Linked DNA regions of Homo sapiens. The protein of the gene in region 4 purifies or fractionates together with the protein of the main gene of each other region. This does not show direct contact. Each region holds a gene or a part of one and is shown on either strand. Other genes may lie near its edges.

What was found.
Region 1: the proteins of SLC18A3 (region 4) and CTPS1 purify together in Homo sapiens (affinity purification with mass spectrometry; one large-scale study listed by BioGRID and IntAct). This does not show direct contact.
Region 2: the proteins of SLC18A3 (region 4) and DHCR7 purify together in Homo sapiens (affinity purification with mass spectrometry; one large-scale study listed by BioGRID and IntAct). This does not show direct contact.
Region 3: the proteins of SLC18A3 (region 4) and MACO1 purify together in Homo sapiens (affinity purification with mass spectrometry; one large-scale study listed by BioGRID and IntAct). This does not show direct contact.
Region 5: the proteins of SLC18A3 (region 4) and SLFN11 purify together in Homo sapiens (affinity purification with mass spectrometry; one large-scale study listed by BioGRID and IntAct). This does not show direct contact.
Region 6: the proteins of SLC18A3 (region 4) and CYP4X1 purify together in Homo sapiens (affinity purification with mass spectrometry; one large-scale study listed by BioGRID and IntAct). This does not show direct contact.
Region 7: the proteins of SLC18A3 (region 4) and ACOX1 purify together in Homo sapiens (affinity purification with mass spectrometry; one large-scale study listed by BioGRID and IntAct). This does not show direct contact.

Annotation. Positions count from the first base shown.
Region 1 is NC_000001.11:40,989,136-40,993,686, reverse strand, and holds part of CTPS1 (CTP synthase 1), read right to left. Parts: intron 2,523-4,551; coding exon 2,439-2,522; intron 1,923-2,438; coding exon 1,842-1,922; intron 1-1,841. UniProt on the Homo sapiens protein: This enzyme is involved in the de novo synthesis of CTP, a precursor of DNA, RNA and phospholipids. Catalyzes the ATP-dependent amination of UTP to CTP with either L-glutamine or ammonia as a source of nitrogen.
Region 2 is NC_000011.10:71,436,078-71,438,725, forward strand, and holds part of DHCR7 (7-dehydrocholesterol reductase), read right to left. Parts: intron 1,867-2,648; coding exon 1,735-1,866; coding exon of another isoform or gene 1,727-1,734; intron 1-1,726. UniProt on the Homo sapiens protein: Oxidoreductase that catalyzes the last step of the cholesterol synthesis pathway, which transforms cholesta-5,7-dien-3beta-ol (7-dehydrocholesterol,7-DHC) into cholesterol by reducing the C7-C8 double bond of its sterol core.
Region 3 is NC_000001.11:25,482,184-25,486,734, reverse strand, and holds part of MACO1 (macoilin), read right to left. Parts: intron 2,620-4,551; coding exon 2,461-2,619; intron 1,123-2,460; coding exon 940-1,122; intron 1-939. UniProt on the Homo sapiens protein: Plays a role in the regulation of neuronal activity.
Region 4 is NC_000010.11:49,608,089-49,613,109, reverse strand, and holds SLC18A3 (vesicular acetylcholine transporter), read right to left. Parts: upstream 2,801-5,021; 5' UTR 2,370-2,800; coding exon 771-2,369; 3' UTR 390-770; downstream 1-389. UniProt on the Homo sapiens protein: Electrogenic antiporter that exchanges one cholinergic neurotransmitter, acetylcholine or choline, with two intravesicular protons across the membrane of synaptic vesicles.
Region 5 is NC_000017.11:35,352,815-35,357,273, forward strand, and holds part of SLFN11 (schlafen family member 11), read right to left. Parts: intron 1,246-4,459; coding exon 522-1,245; intron 326-521; coding exon 1-325. UniProt on the Homo sapiens protein: Inhibitor of DNA replication that promotes cell death in response to DNA damage. Acts as a guardian of the genome by killing cells with defective replication.
Region 6 is NC_000001.11:47,033,585-47,038,135, reverse strand, and holds part of CYP4X1 (cytochrome P450 4X1), read right to left. Parts: intron 2,331-4,551; coding exon 2,203-2,330; intron 2,120-2,202; coding exon 1,965-2,119; intron 1-1,964. UniProt on the Homo sapiens protein: A cytochrome P450 monooxygenase that selectively catalyzes the epoxidation of the last double bond of the arachidonoyl moiety of anandamide, potentially modulating endocannabinoid signaling.
Region 7 is NC_000017.11:75,958,284-75,962,834, reverse strand, and holds part of ACOX1 (peroxisomal acyl-coenzyme A oxidase 1), read left to right. Parts: intron 1-2,459; coding exon 2,460-2,620; intron 2,621-4,551. UniProt on the Homo sapiens protein: Involved in the initial and rate-limiting step of peroxisomal beta-oxidation of straight-chain saturated and unsaturated very-long-chain fatty acids.

The DNA.
Region 1 (4,551 bases), on a different chromosome or scaffold from region 4:
TCAAGTCAACTCAGTAAGATAAACATTCCAATTAAAAGAGTAAGTAAGGCTGGGCATTGCCGGCTCACGCCTGTAATCTCAACATTTTGGAAGACTGAAGCAAGAAGACTGCCTGAGCCCAAAGAGTTCAAGACCAGCCTGGGCAACCATAGCAAGACCTCATCTCTACAAAAAATAAAACAGCTGAACATGGTAGCGTCCGCCTAAGGTACTAGCTACTCAGGAGGCTGAGGCAGGAGGGCTGTTTAAGCCCAGGCTGCAGTGAGCTGTGACAGCACCACTGCACTCTAGTCAGGGTGACACAGCAAGACCTTGTCTCTTAAAAAAAAAAGGCAAGGCCAGGCGTGGTAGCTCACACCTGTAATCCTAGCACTTTGGGAGGCCAAGACGGGTGGCTCACCTGAGGTCAGGAGTTCCAGACCAACTTGGCCCGCATGGCAAAACACCATTTCTACTAAAAATACAAAAATTAGCTCGGCATCGTGGCAGGTGCCTATAATCCCAGCTATTCGGGAGGCTGAGGCAGGAGAATCACTTGAACCCAGCAGGTGGAGGTTCCACTGAGCTGAGATTGCTCCACTTCACTCCAGCCTGGATGAAAAAGTGAAAACTCCATCTCAAAAAAAAAGCAAAAAATCTGAAACTTAAACTTAAATGTGGAAATACTTGTTACATTTTTAATAGTGAATATTTTTAAGGCCGGGCGCCCTCACACCTGTAATCCCAGCACTTTGGGAGGCTGAGGCAGGTGGATCACCTGAGGTCAGGACTTTGAGACCAGCCTGGCCAACATAATGAAACCCCATCTCTACTAAAAATACAAAAATTAGCCAGGAGTGGTGGTGCACACCTGTAATCCAAGCTACTCGGGAAGCTGAGGTAGGAGAATCGCTTGAACCTGGGAGGTGGAGGTCACAGTGAGCCAAAAAGATCGCGCCACTGCACTCCAGCCTGGGCGACACAGCGAGACTCTGTCTCAATTAAAAAAAAAAAAAAAAAAAAAATTGAACAATTTTAATGACAACCTATTCTGCTACAGAATTGAATTTCCTTCACTTGCTAGGCCAGAAATATCTAAAACCTGGCCAAAGCTACATGCTCAATGTATCACCACTAGAATTTCCATACTAAGCACCACACTTAGATACATTACAGGTTCCAAATTTTGGATTTCCTGCATCATAGGTACAGTAACAAAAACACTAAGATCTCTGTGACAGCCTACAACACCCTAGACACCAGGCACCAGAAACAGAAAGTTGAATGAGGTGGCCCTTGCCCTCCAGAAGCTTAGAGTCTGTGAAGGGAGATACACACCACACATGTACACACACACACACACCAGAAAGATGGGCCCATCAGCAGCATACATGCGACACCACACAGGAGCCCAGTGAAGGACGCAGTTAACCCTGAAGGCCAAGGGCCAGGAGGTTTGGCAGTTAAAGCTTCTCAGACAACACTATGTCTTCGCTAGAACCTGAAGGATGAGAGTGAGTAGGAGACTGCCAAGCCAACAGGAAGAGGGGGACATGGGTTCTTAACAGAAATTAGCCAGTGAAAAAGTACAATCATAGGGAGAGTGGAGGGTACTAGGGGAACCGAAAGATACTCCACCCGGCTGAAGCACAAAGTACAACGAGGCACGGAGAAGAGGCAGGAGGGACACAGGTGTTGTTTGGGGAACCAGGAGAGGCAGGGAATGGCCGATGGCAATGGGTTCTTCTGGAACAGCCCACTATCTCTAATTAGAAAATAACAAGCCTCACGAAACTGATCAAGAGGCTTTAGGACAATTAGAAGCAAAAAACAACTTATTAGAGATGGGAATTTCTACTCACTTGTTCAGGCTCAACATGGCAGAACATTGATATTTTCTCCTTCACTGATGTGTCAAGTGGATTTGAGCACCTGCATACAACCTAGCAGTAGAGAACAAGATGGCTTAGACAGAAGGAAAAAATGACAGAAGTAGGGGTTTCTCCTGACTGAAATTAAAACAGACATCACATTGTTAAGATGAACGAAAACGTTAACTCTCAGCACCAGGCACATAATCCATAAAAATATTATGACTCGTTTCAAAGCTAAAATCCGTAAACGCCAAACTGGAGAAACATAAGAGAATGGCAGTACAAATGAATACATTAATGAACTACAAGAGCTCTGGGATTTTCCTCCATTAGTGTTCCCAAGTAGGAGTAAAAATGAGAGTAAAAAGACTGAGAGGAAAAATAAGGTCTGGGGAGTACAAGACCTAACACGCTCTAAGTATGAACATCTTGCAAACTACAGCCCGGTTCAAAGAACTAATCCTATTTTCTCCATCATCAATTATCAAAAGCAACCCAACAAGACAAAGGTCTTGTCTGTCATGATAGAGTGATCTTAACTAGACATAAAAGATTACACTGCAACCAGCTATCAGGAAATCTTACCAGATCTGGGGAAAGCCCAAGTCCTCTAAGTTCCCGAACACTATTCTGGGTAGGTTTAGTCTTCTGTTCCCCTGTTGAACTTGGCTATTTCACAAAAGAAAAAAAAAAAAAAGTTAGTTTCCCTCTGATAAGGAATTTTCAAGTATGACTTTTCCTTGAACCTCTTTTAATAAGGAAATAGATCATTTGGTCACTTGTGTAATTTAGCTTTTATGTTTGTCAAAGTTACACATGCATGCATTTTAGAATCAAATGGTTCTAACCGAGCTTGTAAGCAGTATCGGCCCTCACCCACTCTCCCCTTTCCAATCCCTAGAAACAACCGCTCTTCAACTCTTAACTGATCTTGCTGGTGTGCTACTTCTCCACATTTACTTGGAGGCATTTTCTATTGATTTCCCTGTTAAATGAGGATCCTGCCCCCATTAGACACTTTCCTGTGCCTGCAGTCCTCTTTTGGGTTTACATACTTTTTAAGTATTTAAATACTGTTCCCAAACCATGTGCCACACTTTTCCTTTCTGTACTAAATCATCTTTATTCTTCTCTCACACTTAACAGATACACGTTACACATGGACTTGTAGGATGGAAATCATTTTCTGTTGGACTTTTTCTTTTTTTTTAAATCGAGACAGGCTCTTGTCACATTGCCCAGGCTGGTCTCAAACTCATAGGCTCAAGCAGTCCTCCCACCTCTGCCTCCCAAACTGCTGAGATAACAGGTGTGAGCCACCATGCTCAGCCTCCACTAGAATTTTTAATGAAATAGCATCAATGTCTTTTAGCTTCCAGTATTGTTGCTAAGGGGTCCAGTGGCACAATGATTCTTGATTTTTCTCTTCAGAGCCTTTTAGAACTTCTGCCCCATTAGTCTGAACCTTCACAATAATATGCCTTGGTGTAGGTCATCTGTCATCCAATATGATAGGCACCAAGGGGGCCCTTTCAACCCAGAAACTGATGTCTAGAAATTTCCTTGAATTGTTCAGATAAGGGGTCAGAAAATTTTTTCTGTAAAGGCCCTGATAGTAAGTATTTTAGGTTTTGTGGGCCACACAGTCTCTGCCACAAGTATTCAACTCTACTGTTCTAGAGCAAAAGCAGCCACAGACAGCACATAAACAAGCAGACACAGCTGTATTTCCATAAACTTGATTTCCAAATACGGGGGGGTAGGTTCATGTGGCCCATAGGCCATCATTTGCTGACCCCTGGGGTTCAGATTATACCTCCATTTCTGTGTTCTTATTTTTTGGAACTCCTATTATTTGGACATTAGAACTTCTGAGCCAGTCCTCTAATTTTACCTTTTCTCTCCTATTTTCTATCTCTTGGTCTTTTTGCTGTACTTCCTTGGGTATTTCCTCAACTTACTTTCTCTTAACTTTTTCATTTCTGCTATCTAATTTTTAATTTCCAAGGATTCTTTTCTGTTCTCTCAATGTTTCTTTCTTATAGCATCCAGTTCTTACCTAACGGATATAGCTTATCTCCTTCTAATTTTCTAAGAATAGTAATGACAGGTCATTTTTGGTTTTTTGGTGTTTTTTTAAAGTTTCCTCTGCTTGTAGCGCCTCAGTTCCCTGTAAGTTTCTTTCTTTCTGTTGTTTGGTCTCTTACCTATCAGATGCTTTCTCCAAGTGTATGGAGGCCTGCTTAAATGCTACCTATAAGTTATGTGTGAGTGTGTAGGCTTGTCATGGTGAAAATCTGGCTGGCTTATTTCATGGGGAGCCGCCAGAGCCAGTGTCTTTTATCCTGGGCTATCCATACCCCAGAAGACAATCTTACAACCTCCTACGTGGAATGGCCAAGCCTAAACATGATGATTCTGGGAACCAAATGGTGGAAGAAGGCAAGGACTGTCAACAGCGTTAACATTACACATAACCCCATGTTTGTAGTCCAGTGTTACTGCCCTCAACTGTCCCTACTGTCTGCTCATCCAGGAACCCTCCCCAGAGAACAAGCCTCCAGTCTTCTGCCAAGGTGGGAGGAGGCTAACGCCCAACTGTGCACTGTAGGAAAAAGATGTCAGGGTCTGAGTCTTCTGAAGCAGTAGTTACATGAGGCCCACCCTCATCCCACTCCTGAGCTTTTGGGGTTCTGCA
Region 2 (2,648 bases), on a different chromosome or scaffold from region 4:
CCCTATATATATGACATATAGCATAAACATCAAATATGTAACAGTATTAAAAATATAATCTGAATTTAATATTGTGATGGTCAATTTAACGTGTCCACTTGGCCAGGCCATTGTTCCCAGATATTTGGTCAAACACTAGTTGTAAAGGCATTTTTCAGATGAGGTTCATATGTTAATCAGTCAACCAGGCAGAGTGGATGACCCTTCACAATGGGGGTGGGCCTCATCCAATCAGTTGACAGCTTTAAGAGACAGAAGACCCACCTTCCCCAAAGAAGAGGGAATCTGCTAAAAAGTGGCCTTCTGGCCATGCACAGTGGCTCACACCTGTAATCCCAGCACTTTGGGAGGCCAAGGCGGGCGGATCACGAGATCAGGAGTTTGAGACCAGCCTGACTAACATGGTGAAACCCCATCTCTACTAAAAGTACAAAAATTAGCTGGGCGTGGTGGCATGCACCTGTAATCCCAGCTACTCGGGAGGCTGAGGCAGGAGAATCACTTGAACCCAGGAGGTGGAGGTTGCAGTGAGCCAAGATCACACCACTGCACTCTAGCCTGTGTGACAGAGCGAGACTCCGTCTCAAAAAAAAAAAAAAAGTGACCTTCTATTTAAGCACAGCATCAACTCTTCCCTGGGGCTCCAGGCTGCCCTGAAGATCTTGGACTTGTCACTCTTCAATCACATGAGTTGAAAAATACATCTCTTTCTTACACGTATACCCTCCACCCCTCTATTGATTCTGCTTCTTGGGAGAAACCTAATATATAGTATAAAAAATGTACATCTCGAGACACACACAGAGGCTAAAGCAAGTAAGAGCTATTATATAGTGGGACCTATTGCTACGTTTTCACATCCTTGGAAAATGGAGTTTATAAAACCAGGGAACCAGCAGACCTGCAGCCAGCCAGGTGGAGAAATGGGGCCGGGTGGGCCATGCGGGGGGCTCCAAGGACCTGGTGTGAGCATGGGGCCAGCTGGGGCTCTGCACCCTCCACCTGGTACTGGCCCCCTCTGCTGTGGGAATCCTGGTTTTCCAGGACACCCGCACCTCCATCCCACAGGACTGGCTGTCACAGGTGATGCCGGGCCTGTCACATCCTGAATAGGTGACAGCCTCTCCACGTTGGTTCTCTCCACTTGGGCACAGCCTCTTGGGGCAGGCCACCCCACCGTTCTGCTAAGCAAGTGCCCTGGGGTGAGTTATTTCTGTCCCCAGGGGGCTCGTTGCTCTTGAAATGGGCAGGTGGCATCTGGTCAAGCAGCCACCTTACCTGGGAGCCCAGCACTCTCCCCAAATCAGAGCAGGGCTGCTCTCGTTGAGCTGGGAGGGGAGTGGGGGGCTTGATGCCAATGACAAGGCCACTTGCTATCCCCTACTGTCCTGGAACTCCCAGGGCAGCCCTGCCCCAGTGCCCAGCACATCCTAGGAGGCAGGAATGAAGAGGACCCCTCCTGCCAGTGCCCGCACTGACCCACCTCCACCTCCACTGCCCCATCCAGCCCTGAGCCGGCATCTGCCCTACTTTGCAGATGTTAGGGACATACTCAAGGCCACCTCCCTGGCTGCTGGCCCAAGCTGGCTGAGCTGGCTAATACACGAGGCCTTCCCTTCTTCCTAGAAACAGGGGGCAGCTTTGGTGCCCCCAAGGACAGACGCTTCTGCAAGGAGAAAGCTTAGCATGTGTCTGCCAAATGCCCCGCTGGGCCAGCTCTGCCCACCTCCTCACCTGCAGCGTGTAAAGATAAGGCAGCCAGACACAGTCGCCCCAGCCCAGGTACCACCCGAAGTGGTCATGGCAGATGTCAATGGTCTTCAGGTACCAGGTTTCGTTCCAGAAGAAGTCAATCACGTAGATGGCCTGCAAGACAGAAGCAGCCGCTGACCACCCCCGGCCCTCCTGGGGCCCCCATGGACCTCGGGGAAATCACACTCCACGCAGATGCAGCAGGGGGTGCTCGGGAGCTGCTCAGCAACTTCCTCAATGCTGGGGCTGTTCCTTCCCTGCGGCTGGGGCTGTTCCTGCCTGGGTCATGGGCAGGGCTAAGGGCTTCCTTGTCCTCAGAACCACCCCGAGCCCATGGCCCTGGCATCTCTCCCAGCCCAGGTTCTCAGGGCTTGCAATGGCGCGTGCCAAGGGGAAGGGATACATTCATCCCATCCAGGTCAACCTCCTGCCCGAGCAACGTCCACAGCTCCTGACAGGCCTCCCTCACCCTCTCGGGTTCTCCTAGCCAGCTCCCGCTGGCTCCCTGGGTGACGCTTCCGAATGCACCTGATCGCTGCCACCCTGCACCCCAGCTCAGCACACACTTTCTGGGTCTTGCTGCTTTTAAGATAAAGAGGAAGACTTCCATGAGGCCTCCAGCCTCACCTGGCTCTGAGCTCCTGAACGCTCTCTGGTCAGGATGCGGGATGTTTCTGAGTGTCCCAGACTTGCCACCCTCTCTCCCTACAGGGGGTTCCTGGAGCATGCACTCTTGCCTCCACTCTACCAGGTTAACTCCCACACACCCCCAGATTCTACCCAGGTGTAATCCCCAAGGGAGACCTTCCTGGACCACGCCTGGCTGCGTAGAACCTGCCTCCTCCCCTCCCAGGGCTGGCAGAGACAGGCACCCAAGGATGGCTTCCTTCACCAAG
Region 3 (4,551 bases), on a different chromosome or scaffold from region 4:
TTTCCTAAAAGGTGAAATGATTCACCAATTATTCTGCAAATGCCAGAACCCACAAAGAAGGCTATCAACATGCCAAAAGTTAAATTACTTAACTTTAATTACGACAAAGCAAAATTCAAGGAAAAATTACAGTTGAATTATACCACGTAGATACAAATTAGGATGGAATTTAAAAGTGAAATAAATAATAATTTACCCTCGCTCTATATCTGCAAACACCTAACTGATTCCCACATGCAGAGGGACTTCACTAGTCAAGAAAACAAAGGAAAAAGTGATAAGTGAAGTAGAAGCAAAAAGAAAAAAAAAGCTCTTAACTATCTAATAGTTTTTGGAATACTTGCACACAGGGGTACTTTCCAGTGGTATAGGAGGTAGTCCCCAATTTTCATTATGCCATAAATGTAATTCCATCTAGTAGAGACTTATGTTTCACTTTTTTTTTCCATTTCATTTGACAGTTTGCTGATATCCATTTGAGCAGCCAGTACACAGTGCTTGGGCAACCAAGATTTTATCTTTCTTCCATTTTAAGATAAAAACTTCAGAAACACATATACCTAAGAGTGGAGAGTAATGATAGCTCTCTAAAGGGAACGAACTTCCAGATAGAATCTCTCAATGCATTTAGTAATCATCAGTCTGACAAAAAGTGACTGGAAACCTTTTTATGAGCAGTACTTTGCCTCCCAGGTATGGGAAACATGGTGATTCCCTCATCCCACTTTATAGATGAGGTCACTGAGGGATAAAGCTGTTATAAGATAGTGCAAGCTTGCACACATGGAGTTTAAACCAGTTAATAAAACAGTACTTAAAAGCAATCCATCCGTGCATGATTGCTGTACGTCCAATCCTGCCCAAGGCACCAAATTCCCATGTCTTTGTTGGTAAAGGAAAGCCAACCTTGGATTAAACACTCAGGTGACATGGACATACCTAGATGCAGCAGCAAACGCAACAGCCCGGGCAGCAGTGGCTTCTTCTAACTTCTTCCTCTTTTTCTCTTCCATTAACTGTTTCTCTACAAAACTTCGGGCTTCCTGCTCAGCTTTTAGCTTTTTCTCCAACTGGCTGATATTCTGCTTGTCTTTTTGCTTCATTTGCACAGCATTATGTAACCTATATGGAAATGATTGTCATATAAAGTCTTAAAATTACAAATGCCCACTATAAACCCTTGAGAAACATCTCTTTATCACCTTAAGGCCAATTAAACAGGAGGTTTGAACAGCAAATCAAAAATGTCAATGCCCAGAATGCCTGAGGAAAACACACTGTTATTCTTTAATAATTCCTAAACACCAATAAACAAGCTGCCTTACAAAACAGAGATTAAGACCTAGCCTCTGCTCTGTTCAAGTAAGTGATCTACAAAAGGTCATCCAGAAAACAGGGTAAAACAAATTTTGAACAGAGGGGAAGATAATTGTAGAACTAATTCTAATGTTCCAGAGCACCCTGAAAGAACTTCAGTCCCACCAAAGAACCACTGATGGGACCAGCCCCAGTGAAACTAAGGTAAGGGGTGGAAAGGGGAAGGTTTTTATTTTTCCTGAATACAATTTTGCTGTAGCCTACTACAGCTTTTCCTTTCCAGCTCAGGATGTTTGCTCACAGTGTCCCCAAATCCTCTTTTAGAGTCACAGGATGCTTAATTTCAGATAGAAATTTCAGCCATATTTCCTGCTTACTACCACCCCCAGCTTTACCTATCAGCATGAGGTGAGTTTATCACTGGGATGTTCTCTACATATCAATGCTAGAACCACCACAAATGCTGGTCAGAGGCAATGGAGAGGTTATTTGCCTGTAATGCCCTAGCTTTTGAGTTACATTCCTTAAAAATGTTGAACTCCTCTTTCAACAGGGAAAGCCCAGAAAGCCAACAGCCTGTAATGATCATCACTACCACGGGCACACATTGCTGGGAGATTTAAAAAAAGAAAAAAGGACAGACCTACACTGAGTTAAGAAGTAATTCCAGAATGAACTAATCAAAAGCCTAAATGAATTCACACAGAAGACCTGGCTTTCTGCCTGCCTTTTCAAATAAAATCAAAGTTCAATGTCATCTTTTAGTTCTGGAAATAAAAGTAAATATAGTCAAATCCTCTAGAAATTTTCACTCAAAGGAGCAAAATTTTCAAAATGTGACAGAACTACTTCTTGTCAATTTTACTATCCAAAAACTCAATAACTATTTTAAACTAAGAAGTTATTAAATGAGAGAAGACAAAAACAGTAATATTAATAAACTGTTTTGTGGCAATGAAATAAGTTTTTATAGATTTTATAAACATGTTGAATATCTGGTACTAAATAAAGTATTTTAAACATTTTATTTAAAAACCTCTCAGCAGGTCTCTGTCACCATAAATCTTGTGCTCCAACCCCTGGCAACAGGAGAAGCAGTGAAGCTGCCGGGCTTACGGCCAAAGGCCTGAAAGGTGCACGTACTTGTTCTGCAGCAGCTCGTTCTCCTGCCGAAGCTGGCCCATTTCTGAGCGGATCCCTCGCTCGGTGCTCGAAAGGGAGCTGATCTGACTGCGGAGCTCTTGTTCCACTTGTCTGCTGGCTTGCAGGTCAGCCTTTAACTTTTTAATGTCTTGTTCCAGCCTAGGAGAATGAGAAATGCAGCATTTTCATCTAGGTGAGGGCACCCACAGAGCTGGGAGGGACCTGGTGGGGGTCCTGGACTGCTGGGTGAATGGCAGAAAAAGGACCCCGCTGGCAGTTCCTGCCATGATGAGGACTCCTGTCTGCAACTGGGTTAATTTTGTTGAATGATTCCACCTGGGTCCCTACCTCTTCCTACTGGGGTGTAACTTTCAACTTCCCCCTGTTTATGAATAGTGACAGGTGAGTATGGTGCTTGTGAATATCCATCCGAGCTGCTGATAAAGGAGAAAGGGACAGCAGAGAGGGTGGCTGAAGACTAAAGGCTCCCTTCTGGTGGCTTTTCATGCCCTCAGCAAGGGAAATATGTTCAAACAACTAGCACATGACCTACCACTTAATGCTTTGTGATATTTTGATAAATCAGAATCTACTGTCTGAGACTGCGTCCCACCATGGGCCTAGAAGAAAACGGTCTGCGACGACCTCCAGAAATTGCAGCATCCTTGCTGAATGACGTTCACAACTCTGGTGATTGCGGCAGAAGAGCTCACGAGACTCAATAACAATGAAAAAAGGAACAAATTACATGCTCTAAGAATCATAAGAGAACTCCATCTGTAAAATGAAGCCTATCTTTTCTCGTCAATTCCTTACTCTTGTTCCATCTATTTTCTTTACTGCAGTAATAGTTTCACTTTAAGTGACAGGTATTGGAGACCTACTATGCATATGTAGTGCTGAAAATGGTCAACAAAAACTATCGGCCAGGCGCAGTGGCTCATGCCTGTAATCCCAGCACTTTGGGAGCCCGAGGCAGGCGGATCACCTGAGGTCAGGAGTTCAAGACCGGCCTGGCCAACGTGGTGAAACCCCATCTCTACTAAAAGTACAAAAATTAGCTGGGCATGGTGGCGCGTGCCTGTAATCCCAGCTACTCAGGAGGCTGAGGCAGGAGAATCACTTGAACCCAGGAGGTGGAGGTTGCAGTGAGCTGAGATCATGCCACTGCACTCCAGCCTGGGTGACAAGAGTGAGACTCTGTCTCAAAAAACAAAAAACAAACAAACGAAAACTATAAAATCAAGTCTCTTTCTTCATGGGAAAACTTCACAATTAGGAACAAAGAAATAGGAACCAAGAAATACATAATTTAAATGATTAAACAATAAGACAAGGAAGGCCATGATTAAATATATGCCAGAAGGAATAATAACAACAGCTACTATTTAATGAGAACTTATGGGCCAGGCACTGTTCTATAGGGTTTAATCCTATAATCTGTACAACTATGGGCCAAATGCAATTCCTATTCCCATTTTTACAGATGAAGAACTCTAGGCTAGGAAAGGATGCAGCCCAAGGTCATCCAGGCAGTCTAGCTCCAGAGTCCATTCTCTTCACCATTAGGCCAAACTATAGCCATGTCATCCACAGCATGGTAGAGGAAGAAGTGCTATGTGAGTCTGAGGAGAGAAGACTGGGAAAGGCTTTGCAGAGCAGGTAGAGATTGACTTGGGCCCTGATGTTTGGATAGGATTTGGAGAAGTAGAAGAGGAGGGGACATTCTAAATGAGGGGAGAAATGTATTAAAAAACTCAAAGGCAGGAACAGCCATAGACATGTGCGGGCAAGCCATTAGTCTGGCTTCTGAGAAAAGCTTGTACTGGGGAGAGAGTAGGAAAGGATAGAACAGATCTGGTAGATAGGACTGTGGAGAGTGGTGCTGAAGGTCAGGTCAAGGATGGCTGCCATGTGAGCTGCAGTTGAGAATGAAAGAAAAATTAGATCTACAGAGGCTGGATCTCAATAATTTTGTAGTTATTACTTTCATTTTTTAAATCTCTTCCTACCACAAACTAGGAATAACAATATTTATTTAGAAGAGGCTTTTTCCATCAGGATACAAACTCACAAGTAGGTAAAGTCAGT
Region 4 (5,021 bases):
GGATTCTGGTCTGAAGGGAAGCTCAGCCCAGGCACCTCAGAGCTCTGAGGCTGGTGTGGGGCGTGTCCTCAAAGGGCGGGGCCTGGCGTGCCTAGCTGGAGCGGGTCCTCAGGCTCCCCCGGGCGGCATCCCCGGGCTCTGCGCTAGGCCTGGAAAAGAGGGTCTATCCTGGGCTGAGGGGAGCATGGTGCTCCTTGGTGACCGTGGGTGACAGCCTTTGTTGGGTTTGCTTCCTTCCTATCCCCTTTTCCAGGTAGAAAAACAGCTACAGGTGCCTACGTGTTAGTTTGGCTTAGGTCTGGATTGGGACTTGGAGACCCAGTTCACCCTCCCCTCTGCTCTGGCCCTGCGCGCCTCCACGCACCCCCCACCAGTAAAGAGACTCGGCCTCCTGGGACAGACACAGTTTATTGATTTGGGCGGAGGCGCCGCGGTGCAGCGGCCCAAGTTTGGCACTGGGAGCAATGGAAGGAAGGACAGACAGATGCAGGCTCTACACAGGGGAGCCGCAGGTGGGGACTCAGGGTCCTCTTCACCTCCGCAAGGAGCGCGATGGCTTCGCTGGCCTCGGTGCTCCAAGCCCCATTGGACAAGAGAGAAAGGGATATGGAACGGGTCACAGGGAGGGGATTTGGGCAGAAGTCAAGGTTGAGGAGTGGCTGGGGTACTCGCTGGAGGAGGTGGGCCCTGAGCCAGAGCTGGCCAGTGGGCTTGCAGAGCAGCCCCCTTGACCCAAGGCGGTTGGGTGGGCTGGAGGAGGAGTGGGGATGCTAGCTGCGGGTGTAGTAGTAGTTGTAGTCGTCCTCGCACGCATCAAAAGGGCCAGGCGGGCTGCGAGGCTCGCCGTCCTGGCCAGACACAGGACGCTCACGCAGGCGCACCGCATCGTACAGACCTTGCGGTGGCTCATCAAGCAGCACATCGCGCTCGGAACGGGAGCGCGTCAGGAGGCCCACGTTGCGGAGCAGCAGCAAGACGGGAGCATAGAGCAGGTTGGCCAGTCCCATGCCAAGGCTGAGCTGCTCAAAGCCCAGCGAGTGCACAATGTGGCCTGCCACTATGGGCCCGAGCGCGTAGGCCACCGAATAGGAGATGTCGGCGATGGCGTAGACGCTGCCATAGACTGAGACATGGCGCACGTCCACCAGGAAGGCGAGCGTGGGCAGCAGTGCTGTGTCGACTAGGGCTATGCCAAAACAGAGGCCGCATAGTGAGACCACTAGCGGCGCGAAGGAGCGGCAGGCGGGCACGATGCACGAGCTGGCGCCGATCACAGCCAGCCCAAGCGCGCCGTACAGCCACTGCAGGTGTGGGTAGCGCGCCGCCAGGCGCACGGTGAGGTAGACGCCCAGCACATGAGGCACGAAGGCCGGCAGCCAGGCCATGCCCATCTCCCACTCGGAAGCCGCCATCGTATGCTTCATCCACGTGGCAATGGTGGGTTCGAGGAAGGCGAGGGGAATGTTACAGGTGGTGAGCGCGCCGGCCACCACGGCAATGTAGGGGTCTAGCATGAGGCGGTGGATGGGAGTGCCCACTGGCAGGTTGGCCCGAGCCCGTGCAGCCGCCGAGAAGGGTTTGGCCACTGCCAGCAGCAACAGCGCGTCAAAGAGCGACACGGCAGCTAGCACCAAGAAGGGCACGCGCTTGCCGGCGAACTCATAGAGGATGCCCCCGAAGGGCGGGGCCACTAGGCTTCCGAAGCTAATGAAGGCCAGCGCCACGCCCAGTGCACGACTGCGCTCCGGCTCCTCCGGGTACTTATCGGCGATCATGGCTATGCCAGACGTGTCGGCGAAGGCTGAGCCCAGGCCCTGCAGGCTGCGCGCCGCGAACAGCGTGGCGTAGTCCTCGGCGAAGGCGAACAGGACTGTAGAGGCGAACATGACGCCCAGGCCGATCAGCAGCGGCACGTCGTAGCTCATGCGGTCGATGAAGGGCCCGCTCAAGGGGTTCACTAGCAGCTGCAGGATAGCCTTGGAAGCAAACAGCACCCCGATCTTCACGTCTTCGCTCTCCGTAGGGTAGCGGGGCCGAAGGGCTGAGCCCGCTGGCCACGCAGCTGTCGGGGACGCCGAGGTGTTGGCCGTGTAGGCGCTGGCATTGGCCGGAGTGGGCAGCGGCAGGGTGGGCTCCCACACCTCGGGAGTCCGGGTGGGGCCCTCGCCGCCCCCGCGCATGTGGGCGATGTAGTCGGGCACTATGGGCACGATGACCATGTACAGCATGTTGTCCAGTAACAGCGCCACGCACACGATAACAAGCACCAGGCGCCTCTGCCGCCGGGGCTCCTGCAGCGCCGCGCCCACAGCCTCCGACAGCTTGGTGGCCGCCGCCCGGGCCTGGCCCGCAGGTTCCGCGGATTCCATGCCCCCACCCCGATGCTCTTCCGAGGACGCCTCCGCCAGGGCCGAGCGCTGGCGTCCCGCAGTGCAGAGGCGAGGGCACGGGACTTCGGGGAGGCTGTCCTGGCCGAGCAGACTCCCCTGTGCCTCAGGTGGCCGCGGAGCTCATGGCCCAGCGTCCCGGGAAAGGAAAGGACTCCGTCCGGCGAGGCGTTGCAGCTACTCTTAGCCGATCCCGGGACCCGCGGCTGCTGGGCTCAGGGGCGGCCGGGAAGTCGGGCGCGCCGAGGGGCCGGGGCCGGAGACTGGGCGCACTTCGCCCGGGGCGCGCCCAGAGCAGCCCCCGCCGCGCTAAGAGGCCGCCCGCGCTGGCCGAGGGACATGCTGTTGCCGCCCGCCCGCTTGCCCGCCCGTTAGCCCCGCCGCTGCGCTCCCCTCCCCTCGCGTCGGCTCTTGCCTCCTCCGCCGCCTCCTCTTTTTTTTTCCCTTCCACTCGGGGCTGTGACGCGGCGAGTCCCAGCCCCCGAGTGGTGCCCGGGCCACTTACGTCGCTCATGCTAATGCGACGTCGGCGGGGCGGGGGCCGGGGGCGGGGCGTGGCCGGGCAGGGGTCCGCTCTCCAGATGCTCCAGGGCTGGAGGCCCAGGAAGGGCTCTCGGTGTGGAAGTCTTGAACCAGCCCCTGGGATGGGCGTTCCGCGCCGGTAGCTGGCCCTCTGCCCCCCGCCCCCTGCCTGCCCCCCGCCCGCGGTTCTAGGACTCGCGGGGTCAGCGCCCGCTCTTCTCCTCTTGGGGAAGGGGGCGCGGCAGCCGGTTCCTCGAGGCCCCTTGGGAGAGGCGGGAGCCAGAGGCTTGCGATCTCCGCTTCAGCCTGGACCTCGGCGCACAGCGAGCAGGAAGCCCCCGAGGTGAGCCGCCGCTGCGTCCATCTGTTCTCGCAGCTGGATTGTGGAGCCGCGTCCGGAGGAGCGCTGGACACGGACACCCCCAACCCTTTCTCCGACTCCGCCCCCTGGCCCCTTGCACACACACTCCCGCCAGGAGGGGAGGGGAAGGCTCAGCAACTGCCTGGCCTGGCTCTGACCCACCGGCCCCTCCGCAGAATTTCTCGGCCGCGAATCGCGGCCGGGAGCTTGTGGGGACTGAGGGCAGAAGTTGCCGCGCCCCAGTCGGGGTCGCGAATATTAGCCTGGCCGCTGCCGCCCTCCCGCACTGCCTGGCCACATTCCCCTTGCCTGGAATCCCCCTTTCTCCTTTAGCGGTCTGGTCCCCCAGCTCCGCCTCTTCTCTCCCCGCCGCCGCACCCCCTCCCCACTCTAACTCCTCCCAGGCACTCTTCGCACCCGACCAAGCCCTCCCTCGGCTCCTGCCAGCCTCCGCCCCCTGTTCTGCACACTCCCCCATCCCTCATTTTCCAGAGCCTCCTCCAAGCCCCGGGTGGGCTCTGGAGTGACTGTGGCTGGGGTCCTCTCTTGGAACTGTAAGAAACCCTTCTTGGGTGCCGCGCCCACTCCCCGGAGAGCGCCCAGCCGCTTCGCTGTCGTCAGGGGCTCCAGGGAGACTCACCTTCCTTCTGAGAGGGCCGCACCCCTTGAGGCGCCCGTGCTCAGCTGACAGGCTGAGCTGCCCAGGCTGTGCGCTGGGCCTGACGCGTCCCCAGAGCGGCGTTGACCCTGGATGGCACATGGAACCCGTGTTCCAGTGGGCGGACTGGCGGGAGAGAGGCTCCAGGGCGGCTGAGGTTGGAGGTGGGGATTGTGTTGTTGAGATTACGGTTTGCGTCTCTCTTCCAGAGTCAGAGGGGAGCCTTCCCATTTTTCTGGCCTCAAAAGTAAAGCAGCATTAGACGCAGATGCTTCTCCCATTGTGCCCCCCACCCCGCAGGAAGTGCCGCGATGCAGTGCAAAGAGTGTGGTCTTTCGAGGCAGACAACCAGGATGGCTCCCAGCTCTGCCACGTACTCATTAGAGTACCTGCAGGGAATTACTTTGCCTCTCTGTCCCTCAGTTAGTTTCTTTGTAAAATTGAATAATAATAGTACCTACTGCTAAGGGGGCCGGGCACACAGTAAGAGCAGTATAAGGACTTGCTATGTTGTTATCGTGTGTAGAATGTGCGGTTTATCCTCATTTTTCACTTGTGGGTCTTGTGAAGAACAGATGAAAGACACAGGGGGCACTTGGCTAGCTGGCTGATCCCTCTGGCTAGGTGGGCATTGTGACTCCAGGCTCTGTCTGGGTTGGTGGAGGACCCGGAGGGCATTGGAATGTCTCCATCTGTCCCTGAGATGGCTGTAGGATGAGGGGATGGGGACCAATGTGTCAGGGTGAGAGGCGGCAGCCTGGCCACCTGTTGCTCAATTCCTTCACCCACCCAGTCACCCTGGGAAAGGAGAAACTCATCCACTGAAGGGCTGCTGCCACCTGCTCTGCAGTGACTGAAGTGCCCTCTGTCTGAGGGAGGAAAAGAGTCCCAATGTGGGCACAGGCCTGGCCCTGGATGACCTTGGGCAAGTCACAGCCCCTCAGTGGGGCCCAGCCTCAGCCTCCGTCTGGTTCAGGTTGAGGTGAGAGCCCACTCACTGCAGCCCTTAGCAGAAGTGCGTGCTGCAGAAGACTCTTTGGAGTGGGCTAATTATTTTAAATTGTATTTGATGGCCTTTCGTCAGTACATGCAC
Region 5 (4,459 bases), on a different chromosome or scaffold from region 4:
TCTAATTACTTGCATTTCTTTTTGTAAGTACTTGGCTATTGGATCTGCATTGCGAACTATTCTGGTGAGCTCTTCTCTTGGATATTGGTCTGAGAGAGGAGGGAGGCCACTGCAATCCAAGTGGCTGGTCTGAAAGTAATCCAGAAAGATCCAGAGAATTCCTGGGCCACCCTTTGCTCTCCGAGTGATGCTTTTTGCCTTCCCATACCAGTCCCCATCTTCAGTACGGAAATTCTGAGCTTCGTCAATGACGATGTGTTGAATGTGTTCAAAGTTTTCTCTTAGGAAAGTTTTCCGGGTCTCTGCTCGGCAGATATTTCTATCACTGTAAAAATTAAAAGAACACACTCAGGTTTTCTCTAAAAAAACAAGGGGAGAAAATAATTGTATCATGTTCCTCCGAGCACAGTACATTACCACAGATCATTTTACCACTCAATTCTCAAGAAAGACGGTGACTTAGCAGAAAAAATTAAACCCAGATTAAATAATACTTAGAGACGTAAGATCCAACTGCTTACCTGATAAAGTTCCTCAGAGGCTGGTTTTCACAAACGTAGAGAATTCTGTGTGCCTCACAGTGAAACACATTCCTGATCTTCTCCATGATCTTCATGGCCATGATGGTCTTCCCTGAGCCAGGTAAGCCGTGGACAAACAACTCTCTGTTCTTGCGGAGGCTTCTGGAGAATATCTCATACTGCTGGGCTGTGAGCAGATTTAAAACCTCACAGCCGAGCTGGTCACTCAAGAGAGACCTGAAGCCGAGTAAGACAATCACGAGGGACTGCAGCAGGGCTTCCATGTGCTGGGTGCCTGCAAGGCTATAGGACGCAGGGTAATCCATCGGAGACACTGCAGCCTCCAAGGCCTCTGCGCTGCTCTCAGGACTCAGGCAGAGGACCTTGGCCCTGACACACACCTTCCCGGTGTAGCCCCCCATGTTCACTAGCTTCTGCTTCAAAGTAAAGGCGGTGCGAGTGCAGTAGTCCTGGCCCTCTGCATCTTGCTCCCTGAGAATGGTGTAGAGAATGGGGGTGCTGTTCTGTGCTATCAGCAGAGCATCACAGATGACTCCTGGCTTCTCCTGCAAGTTCAGGTCCACAGCCCAACTTCTAGAGAAGATCAAAATTCCCCGAAAGAAAGGTTGCATTTGCTTATTTATTAACTCCTCTAGTCCTCTGTGCTCTGAGATCAGGTCCCTCCAGAGTGACTCTGGAGTATATCGCAAATATCCTGGTGGGACTGTATGTGAAAAGAATGATAAATTAGAGGAAGAGAAATAACCCTATTGATTAAGATGACTAATTATAATTAACTAATTGATTAACTAAATGATTACTTATAGAAGTTTCAAATACTATTTTATAAATATTATTATATTATAGTTATAAAGGAAAAGAACCCTTGGAATATCTGGTATACTTCATCTAAACCCATGTGTTTTTTACAACTTATAACCTTGGGAAATTCCTTAGCCTAAGACTTTGCTGTCTCATCTGTAAAACAAAACTAAGAATAGCACATTTCCTATGAGGAGGAATAAATGAAATAACATAAAATGTTTGGCTCATTGTAGCTGCTTGAGAAATGTTGGTTCTCCTCCTCCCCTTTCTACTTTCAAAGTACCTGAATCTCAAAATGCCCCATTGCTGGGAGTAGCAGGAGCCCCCCCTCCTCCACTGCCACAGGAAGAAGGTAGTCATTAACTCCATAGTTGCAGAGGAGAGGGAGTCATATTAAAACCTTTGTTGGCAGCGAATTTCCTGCAGTCCTGGACTGGAAGATTCTTAAAGCTATCTCTCCTGAAGCAGAATTCTTGCATCACTTAAAGATCAACGTATGGCTCCCCACTACCACAAAAGTCTTCCCTGTGTCACAGGCAAACAAGAAATAATTATGTGACACGAGAATATACTTGCATTGGAGGATTATGAACTTATTTCAATGATCAAGGGTTCCAAAGTGGGAGGGGGAGGAAGATAATTGTTGTCCTGTTGTGGTAGTGTTAGAGTACAAACCCAAATCAAGATTTGTAGTGGTAATTTCAAATGAAATTACCCAGATTTTATTGGTAATTGTTTCTTGTTCATTGTTGCTAGTGCTTTCTCATTCGTACCAGGTGCTCACACGACTTGATTATCCCTGCAACCTAGATGACAGTAGGAGATAGCATCTATTATGAGACACATCCAGATTTTAGAGATGTTAAAATATAGGGGGAGATACACATCTTAGAATGGATAAAATAGGATAATTGAGTATATGTTTAAAATGAAGCTTTGGAAACCAAAGAAATGTAAAATAAGAAAATACATCATTTGTTGATTGTTACCAGGGAATTTGCATGTATCTCTGGTCTTCACAAATTTTCCAAGGATGACATATTTATTCCCATCTTCATATGAGTAGATAAGGACTCAAAGAGGTCAAGTGAGAGCTGGGTGCAGTGCTATGGGCCTGTAGTTCCAGCTACTCAGGAGGCTGAGGTGGGAGGATTGCTTGAGCCAGGGAATTTAAGGCTGCAGTGAGCTATGACTGCACCACTGCACTCTATCCTGGGCGACAGAGCAAGATACTGTCTCAAAAAATAAAAAATAAAAGAGATCAAGTGATTTGCCCAACATCACACCACTAGGAAATGGCAGGGCGAGTCTGAACCCAAGTCTCTTGGACATCGGATCCTCTACTGTTTTTGCCCTGCCCTGCAAGTCACAGACTACTCCTGCCTGATAAATGGTAAAAGTCACTAAAACACTTGATGTTTATTTACCTTATCATTGCATAGGTCTTCTTTTTCTTTAATTGTATAATGGAGCATGCTTCTGAAGGAAATTATAGGAAGATAAGAAGTGCTTCTTTCATTTCTTTGATATTCCACATAACAGTAATGATAGGGACCAGACTAGGTGTTCAATTAATGCCATCATTCCAGGTGCACCAGAGTAGTCACCACTCCCCATGTGATTTGAGGACTCTGTGCCTTTGCACAGGTGTGCTCTGAAACTCTGAAGACTTCCACCTTGATCACTTGATAAACTCCTCACCCTCCCCAGAACTCCCATATTCATCCTTCTGTCCTCAGAGCTCCCACTTTGTATCCATTCTGGGAACTAATTTCACCATGGATCTAGGGAATCTTTAGAATCAGCAGTGAAGGGTCCAGGGCAGTTGTTCTCAAACCATAAGAAATCAATCAGGTGAGGTATCCTAAAGGTTTAGGACACCAAGAGGAAGAACACTGGAGCTGGCTGATTCTGACCTACTACACCAGGCCCTGACTATCTTTAGTACCAGTAACTCCAGTTATAGACAAAATTTCTATTTGAGACAATCATTGCATTTCTTCCAAGAGAAGCACTGACAGCATTGATTCTGAAGCCAAATTATTGTCAATCAATGCTAATAATTAGTGTGCTAAGAACATCTTTATTCTTAATATCTGGATTCTAATTGTAAAAGTATAAACATAGTTTGTTTACCACCATTAATGTTCAAAATCTAATAACAATAACAGTGTTCCAAAAATGAAAATTGTCTTTTAAAAAAATAACTTTAGTTAATATATTCCTATACCAAATACCCAAACACTCCTACTCTCATTTTCTTAATTTCCTGCCTTCCCAATCTCACCCTTCTCCCTTATCACAGATACTTTTAAGTTTCTTGCCTATTCTTCCGAAATTACTTTATGCAAATACAAACAAATATTCTGCCCTTTCTTTCCCAACAGGTAGCAAACCATTCAGCAACTACTTTTTTCTTCACTTAGCAATGTATGGTAGAGATCTTTCCATATCAATGCACAATTCCTTATTCTTTTCTTACAGCTATCTAACACAGTATTTTATGGATGTACCATATCTTGTTTGACCAGTCCCTATTGATGGGCCCTTGAGTTTTCCCTCCAGTCTTTTGCTATTATGTTAATACTACAGTGAGTAACCTTGTATGTTTGGTGTGTATGTAAGCATATGTAGCATACACACACACACACACACACACACACACACACACATAATAAAATCCCAAAGGTTAAATGCATTTGTGATTCCAATATATTAATATATTGCCAAATTGTCCTCCAATGGAGTTGTACCAATATGGACTCCCACTAGCAATGTACAAGAAGGTGTGTTTCCCCACAACTAGCAAATAAGAGATAATGTCAGGTTTTTTCATTTTTTAACAATCCAGTAGACGGAAATAATTCTCCTTTTAATTTACATGTCTCTTATTTTGATTAATATTTAGCATCTTTTCAAATGTTTCAAAGCTGTATGAATTTTATTTTCTCTGGACTATCCGTGTTGATTTTTCTGTGCGTGTGTGTGTGTGTGTGTGTGTGTGTGTGTGTGTGTGTCTGTGTCCTTATCAACTTCTGGAAGCTCTTTATATATTAGAGACACTGGCCCTTTGGTTGTGATACGGGTTGCAAATATTTTTTCTACTGGTCATG
Region 6 (4,551 bases), on a different chromosome or scaffold from region 4:
AATTTTTCTGCAAACCTAAAACTTTTCTAAAAATAAGGTCTATTAATGTTGAAAAAAGCCACAAAATCTCCTTAATTAAAACAGTGTGATTCTGGTACATTGGTAGATAGATCAATGGAATACACGAGAACATCCAAATATACTCTTATCCAAAACAGATACCAGTACATGTATCCGTTTAGAATGTGATGGTTATCTCAAATCACTTGAAAAGATAAACTTTTAAATAATGGTGATGGGACAACTGGATAAACATTTGGAAAAATTAGATCAATACCTCACACCATATATAGGAATAAATTCTAAATGGAGTTTAGATCTCTGATTTAAATATGAAAATAATGAAATTATACAAGTACTACAAGAAAACATAAATAATTTTCTCTACAACCTGGGTACAGGGCAGTGGTTCTCAACTGGGGGCCCTGGGAACATTCAATAATGTCTGGAGTTATTTATGGTTGCTATAACTATCAGAGCTCTACTACATCGAGTGGGTAGATGTCAGGGATGTAGCTAAACATCCTACAATGCACACATCTTGACAACAAGGACTTATCTAATCTAAGAAGCCATTAGTGCTGAGGGTTGAGAAACCCTGGAATAGAGAATGGCTTTTTGTGATTACTAAAAATCCAGATGCAATAAAATAAAATATTGATATATTTGACTAAATAAAAATAAACAATTTAAAAAAATTAGCCAGGTGTGGTGGCAGTGCCTGTAATCCCAGCTACTCAGAAGGCTGAGGTAGGAGAATTGCCTGAACCTGGGAGGTGGAGGTTGTAGTGAGCTGAGATCACACCACTGCGCTCCAGCCTGAGTGATAGAGACTCCATCTCAAAAAAAAAAAAAAAAAAAAATTGAAAAGGTTTTAAGTTTTGAATAAATTTAACATTTAATATTTTCCCTAACACTTTGCATTTTGCTTTTTCATCATAATTGTATAATATTTAAAAAGTAAAGATTTTTTTTTACAAAGTTCTGTATAGCTTCCCCCAAATCCATTCCTGTTTACTCCAATGAAGCACAAAAACATTAACATTTTCTGTGTGTGCAATGATGCAGAAAGACTTGGGAACTGCTGCTATTTATAATGCCCATTTATGCCTTAAATTGTTTATAACCTGCTTCTCTGAGTGTCCTCTTTATAATATCTATGTGCATGTATGCATATATGTATGTGTAAGTGTGCATATGTTGGTGTGTCTTGCAAAATTCCTGGAAGCAAAGACATTTGACATAACTATACTTTACATTTAACATCTATTCAGTGCCAGGCACTGTCCTAAATGCTTTATATATATTAACCCACTCATCGTAACAACAAATGTATGAGATAGGTTCTTTTTTAATCTCCATTTTATAGATGACACTGAAACAAAGCAGTAAGTAACTTACTAGTAACTGCTAGTAAGTGGTGAAGCTGATGAAGGATTAATTCACTGCTTGATAAGTATTCTCCATTATGGCATTCATGACAAGTAATGTTGAATTGCTTAAAAAGCTTAATCTATTTCAACTTTTGTGTTTATGCTTGCTAAAACTGTTTTTGAATCAATATTCTTTCGGGTGCATGTCCATGTTTACTCTGTTCCACTCTCCATTCCTATGTTGCATGAATGTTTTTAGCTTGTCATTATTATTACTGCAATCGCTGTGCAAAAAGCCATATTCCATGTATGTCTGGAACTCTTAAGTGCCTACTTATATTTGTATTAATAATAATTGTCCATAATAAAAATAGTGTATATATATATATATAAAAATTCTGATAATACTGCTATGGTTGAAGCAAAGTCTTATAAAGGACTCAAGTCAAATTTCTTTGGAGCAGTGTCTATATAAAAGCTCCATTAATAACAAAGATTCTTTCTCTTGTCATATTAAGGTTTATCCCTCTAGACAGACACAGTACAATCATGGCAGCGTATGGACGTGGGCAACCCAAACCCAACAAATACCTGTGTACTGATTCAACACTCGGCTTAACTTCTGGAAGCGGTAGCCCTGAGGGCTGAGTTTGAAAATTATGTCACTGTGATACAACAAACTGTACAAGCGGTGAAATATGATTTTGCTGAGTTCAAATATGGCTTTTGCATAAGGATCATGGGTGCTAGAAGAGAAAGTTGGGATAATGTGTTAATAAACAACTTAGAAAATGTGAAGAAATATCTTTTTTGCTCTCCCACCACTGACCTGTTTGTCTGGCAGTTGGTCTCCTTGCTGAAAGCGCATTTCATGATTATATCCAGAGACATCGAGTTGATGTGCTCATAGACCTCCACGCTTGTGTCCTGAGTGCTGCAAATCTTCTCCCACTTATCCTGGCACAGGAGGTCAAGACCAACATCATCACCACCACCATGACCAAATTGCCTTCATTTGAAGGCTCCTGCCTGGCCCTGTTTTTATGATCTAATGGAGACAACCCTGACCCAGCAGGAACCAAAGATCACATGAGTAAATAAGCCATGTGCTTACACAGGGCACGAGGAAGGGAAAAATACACCCAGCGGAGTGAGAAGGAGCATGGAGAAAACTGCATATATGGTAAATGGCTGAGTTAAAGATCTGCGGCTTTTCAATTATTACCATAACTCTGCTTTCAAACAGACCAGAGTTCCATTAAAGCAATCATTGACACAAGACCCATAATTACAAGGGGTTTACCCCAGGGCTTCCTCCAACTTCAATTCCAAACTTGCTAGGTACCCTGCCACTGCTCTCAACCACCATAGCCACATTTAAAATAAACTCAGAACATTTTCAAAAACGTTTGGATTCAAAAGTGAGAAACAGAGCAAGTGTGGAGAGGAGCTGCTGCAGGGAGCTGCCCCCAGCAAAGCCTGACCTGGCTTAACTTCCCCACAAAGAGACCTACTTATACTGCTTGAAATGCTTTGCCTGACATTTTTAAACTGTCACAAGGTCCCTGGTTGAAAATGTATTTGTATAATAAGCATACTTTGTGTAAAAATTAAAATAAATTGAAATTTTAAAAGTTCAGGTCGACCGATAGGTCTTAAGCACCTAGCCCCTAGCTTAAGACCTATCGGTCAACCTGAACTTTTAAAATTTCAGAGACTTGGCAACCACAAAGGCAAAGAGAATTTTAAAAACTTTTTCCTAAGTGCAAATTGTTTAGTCAAAGAGCCTTTTTCTCAATTACGTAAGTTTTACTAAGAACAAATGGTGAATGTAGAAGAAATGAGAACAGGAGGGAGGCTTCCAAGCTTGAAAAACTCTGGAATGATGCAGCAGAGGAAGGAAGTGTGAGAAAAATCCCGGAGAAATATGTGGCTGAGAAATGAGGAGGGGAGGAAGCGCTCCGAGAAATAGAGAGAAAACTCTAATGCAACTCCAGTGCAGTCACTGGAGGATCTGAAACTGTGCTGCACCTGAACAGCACTAGAGTCACAAAAGGATGCTCTTCTCTCTCACTAGCTTGCACTGCACAGTCTCTGGGTCTCTGCCTTGAGAACTCACACTGATGTTTTTACCACAGTCCTGGCTGACTTCGGGTTCAAACTGCTTCTGTGAGTTTGGCTGAGAACCCAATCATTGAGCTGGTAACAGAGGTTTGTATGGGAACAGGGATGGGTTTGCACATGAAGTGAGAGGAAAACTTTGTCTTTGTTTGTGGTGTTTGAGGTGTCTATGATGAAAGTGTATTAGTGAATTACTTGTCTTATTTCAAAATAAATATGATTTAAAAATTGAAGCCATTGTACAAATAGAGTTTTGGAATAGAACTCGTTTATAAATCAGAGACCACTCACAGGAATGTTCTTCAGCCCCTTTGAAAGGTGTAGGTCAGGGCCTAATGATCCTCCACTATCTACAAGAGGAAATTCACATCTGCAACTTTAATACACACATTCTCTTTTGCTTGGTCCTTTATAGCCACTGGGCAAGTCCATGCCAATCTCCAAACCTTTGTTCATGCTCCCTCACTCTGCCTCGAATACTCTCATCCATATTACCTACATATTCAAGTCCAGCTTATGTTTCATGGCAAATTTGAGTTTCCTCTGAATCTGAAGCTGTTATAGCTGCTCCTGCCATCCTTACCTGTCACCTTGTGAAGTTAACGCAACTCCATACTGGAAGCTAATCTGCCATCTTGACTTCCAATTAACTCTAGTTCCAGGAATGCTCTGAGATTTCCAGTTTATCTATTGTTCCTTGTGTAAGAGCATGTACTTACCATAAATCTTGCCCTTAGGGCAAGTTCTTACTATTAATAATTTCCTCTGAAGCATGTATGCCCCTCCCCATGGTCTATAATTCCTGGGTCTGGAGGGTAATGGCACAGGGATCCACCATCTTGTCTCACAACTGTGTGAAACAGCCATGGTTTTTGTTTGAAAGCCTCTATTGAATGTTTCTTTTTAAGAAACTGTCAGCCTTTTTCTTCAGCCTCTCAGTTTCCTCAGACTTTGGGGTAGGTTTGTACAGACCCGCCCTCCATGAAACACATCTACAGCACTTACTATCTAACTATCACCATTTGGTACTTGGTTTGCTGCCATAAAATCTCAAAAT
Region 7 (4,551 bases), on a different chromosome or scaffold from region 4:
CCATTCTGCATGTCCATGTTTTACCCCTTGCTCAGCTCCCATGGTGACGAGATTCTTGTCCTTGTTTTGCCATTTTCTTTTTTCCCTGAGCAAGGCATTTAATTCATCTCAGCCTTAATTTCTCCTCTGTAAAATGAGGGATTCAGTCACACATACTTTGATTTTTCTTTTTCTAAAGTGTGATTGCTTAGCTGAAAGCCTAGCCACTAGATTGGAAGAAGTCATTGATTAGCACTTGTCTGAGCAGTGTGCCCTGGTTCTTTTCCTCCCTACCTTGCAAGGAACAAACAGCAATTTAAAAACTGAACTGTCATTTATGCTCATTTCAAAGACACATAGAATGATAAGAGCAATATGGAGTTGACGGATTTGGAGCTGGCAATTACACAGAATACCAGTAATGTGGAAAAATGCAAAGGCCTATAGAACGACTTCCTATCCCTAGCAAAAATTCACACAGAATCCTGTCCCCTGCACGTTTTAAGTGGAAAAGAATGACCCCAGAAAGTTGATTTAAAACTAATAAAGCTGTTTATTATCATTAATGATAATTTCTGTATAATTGTCACGGAGAGCTTATGCATGAATCTGTAACTTGTCGTTATTATGGTCTTCACTAGAAATTGCATGTCTTTTTTAATTTCTGAAATAAATTATTGGGATGAAGAGCACTGTCAGTTTTTGTATTAAAGTGTTTCAGTAGAGCGTGGCCGAATATTTGACATGATGAATCTGAATGAAATGATCAGAGCTATGTGAGGAATATGGTTCTACGCTGGATGTTTTGTGGACAAAACAGAAAAAAAATCCCAGCCTAGAAGCATTATTGAAATTGCATCGAGGAAAAACTATAATCTGGGGGTCATACTGTCACTCTGAGAGAACTACTATGTTCTGTCTCGCTTTCTCATCAGAGGAAATCCTTGTACCAGTACCACTCAAATTCTCTGTTCTCCGACTCCTGGCTTCAAGCGATTCTGCCTCAGCATCCCAAGTAGCTGGGATTACAGGCACATGCCACCACACCCAGCAAATTCTCCATTCTATACAACTTTTTTTTTTTTTTTTTTTTTTTGAGACAGAGTCTCGCTCTGTTGCCCAGGCTGGAGTGCAGTGGTGTGATCTCGGCTCACTGCAACCACCGCCTCCCAGGTTCTCCTGCCTCAGTCTCCCAAGTAGCTTGGATTACAGGCATGTGCCACCACACCTGGCTGATTTTGTATATTTAGTAGAGATGGGGTCTCACCATGTTGGTCAGGCTGGTCTTGAACTCCTGACCTCAGGTGATCCGCCCACCTTGGCCTCTCAAAGTGCTGGGATTACAGGCATGAGCCACGGTGCCCGGCCTTTTTTTTTTTTTTTTTTTTTTGTATTTTTAGTAGAAACGGGATTTCACTATGTTGGCCAGGCTGGTCTCAAACTCCTGACCTCAAGTGATCCGCCTGCGTCAGCCTCCCAAAGTGCTAGGATTACAGGCATGAGCCACCATGCCTGGCCCTATACAACTTTTCAAATTCTCTCTCTCTTTTTTTTTTTTTTTTTGAGATGGAGTCTCACTGTGTCGCCCAGGCTAGAATGCAGTGGTGTTATCTTAGCTCACTGCAACCTCTGCCTCCTGGGTTGGAGCAATTCTCCTGCCTCAGCCTCCTGAGTAGCTGGGATTACAGGTGTGCACCACCATGCCTGCTTAATTTTTGTATTTTTAGTAGAGACAGGGTTTCGCCATGTTGGCCAGGCTGGTCTTGAACTCCTGACCTCAGGTGATCCACCCACCTCGGCCTCTCAGAGTGCTGAGATTATAGGTGGGAGCCACTGCACCTGGCCAATTCTCTCTTATTTATTTATTTATTTTTTTTGAGACAGAGTCTCACTCTGTCACCCAGGCTGGAATGCAGTGGGCATGATCTCGGCTCACTGCAACCTCCGCCTCCTAGGTTCAAGCGATTTTCCTGCCTCAGGCTCCCAAATAGCTGGGACTACTGGCTGGCGCCACCACGTTCAGCTGATTTTTGTATTTTTAGTAGAGTCAGGGCTTTGCCATGTTGGCCAGGCTGGTCTCGAACTCCTGACTTAAGGTGATCTGACCGCCTTGGCCTCCCAAAGTGCTGAGATTGTAGGCATGATCCACTGCACTGGCCTCTCAAATTTTCTTTATTTCCTTTGATTTAATTCCTGGGCGAGGATCCTCTGCCTTGCACGTGTGGTTTTGTGCTGCATTGGCTTTGGAATCAGTAACCAATCCCTGTCCTCGTACTCCTTGCCGACTCAGGAAAAATGGAAATTAACAAGAGCTATAAAGTAATACAGAAAGGGACAGTGCTCCCATCTATGATTAAGTGCACGCAACTAATTCATACTTAAGGTTTTTTTGTCTCCTTCCCTTGCTCTATTTAAATTGCTGATTCTCTCACACCTGATGACTCTTCTCTCAAATGCCCATCCTTGATATTTCCTCGAAGTTTTGTGCACCGAGGGCGGCCTGAGCCTCTGGATCTTCACTTGGGCATGTTCCTGCCCACCTTGCTTCACCAGGCAACTGCGGAGCAGCAGGAGCGCTTCTTCATGCCCGCCTGGAACTTGGAGATCATTGGCACTTATGCCCAGACAGAGATGGGTCATGGTATGGAGTATTCAGTCTACCTTCTGGGTTGGGCGGGCCCCTGTGAGCTTACCATGTGTGGAGTGCCCACCATGTGCCATCGATGGTGTGTCGATGTTCTATGGTCTGTTTAAATGAGCTCTTTCTGCAGAGTCCAGGTTTTGGTATAAACACTGCTTTGGTGAGTGGGAATTAAAGACCATGATACTGATAAAATGATTGTCCTTTTTATACCATAGTTCCCCTTCAGAGGGTCAAGAATTGCAAATCAGGCCTTATTTACCAAGTGGTTTTTCAATGTTACTGAGGTTGTATAGAATCTGTGTGCATATACAACCCGAAGCTGTTTTTTTCTTCATTACTATCTGATTACCTTTACTACTGATACCTTAATGAGTACAAATTCCAGAAGAAATACAAATAATAGTTTGTGTACTCTTGGATTTGCTTGAGGGAAATGAGTAGCTTATAACTGACGTGTGTGACATTTTGGAGTTATTTGTACTTTGAGTCAATCAGTAGTTCTGCAAGTGACTTGGCTGGAGAGTGAAAAAACCAAGATAAGCCGAACTTGCAGGCATTTGGTTTCAGACTCTGTATCTCCACCTTTCATTGATCTTTCCACCCCCCACCTGCTTTCTTCATGCACCTGGGTGGGCTGGAGGTGGCCGCTGTTCCTCTTTGTATCTTCTCTGAATTGGGTCCGTGTTTGCCATTCATTTGCTTATGGCTTCTCTTTTTCTGCTCTGACGTTTCAGAAAAACTGGTCTAGTGTGTATTTGCCACTTGCTCCTTATTTCTATACAGCTGCTGCTTTTTATTTGGTGTTGAATAGTATTTTACAGGATTTTCATGAGACTCCAAGTGGAATACTATTTGTTTCAGTTGTGCTTTTGAAAACATTTTGTCCTTATCTGTTCTGTTTAATGTTATCTGCTTTTCTGTAAAAGCTGCTTCTTTGATGAAAGATGTCTGTGTCTGATTTGTTGACTCCCACTCGGGAAAGTTGTGGATTGCACATAAGTTGGTTATTCAACTTGGAAGCTTCTAAATGTTTCAAAGTGTGTTTAATGAGGTCTAAGCGTTATGAAAGCAGATTGGTAAAAGGTTCCCAACGTTTGCTTTAGTACAGTATTTTTGTAGAGACTGCCACCTAGAACATTTTTCTATGACTCTTTTCAAATAATTTTGATATATTTGTGTTAAGATTTAAAACATAAGATCCTGTCTATCCCAGTACACATAAGAAACTGGAAACTCTTCCTTGCCACATTAATGAACCAGCAGGACTAAGTTAGGCCTGCCATTGGAAATCTCTAGGGTCAACTGAGACCTTATTATTGGACCTTTAGGAATTTTTAAAAGTCACATTTCAGGTCATTTCCCCAATAACAGTTATACTTTTATACTTTTTTTTTTTTTTTTTTTGAGACGGAGTCGTGCTCTGTCGCCCAGGCTGGAGTGCAGTGGCGCGATCTCAGCTCACTGCAAGCTCCACCTTCCGGGTTCACGCCATTCTCCTGCCTCAGCCTCCCGAGTAGCTGGGACTACAGGCACCCACCACCATGCCCAGCTAATTTTTTGTATTTTTAGTAGAGACGGGGTTTCGCCGTGTTAACCAGGATGGTCTCGATCTCCTGACTTTGTGATCCGCCCGCCTTGGCCCCCCAAAGTGCTGGGATTACAGGCGTGAGCCACCGTGCCCAGCTTTAATTTTTTTGTTGTTTTTTTAGTAGAGACGGGGTTTCACCACTTTAGCCAGGATGGTCTCAATCTCCTGACCTCGTGATCCCCCCACCTCGGCCTCCCAAAGTGCTGGGATTACAGGCTTGAGCCACTGTGCCTGGCCTTTTTCTTTTTCTTTTTCTTTTTTTTTTTTTTTTGAGATGGAGTCTTGCTCTGCCACCCAGGCTGGAGTGCGGTGGCACAATCTTGGCTCACTGCAACCTCCA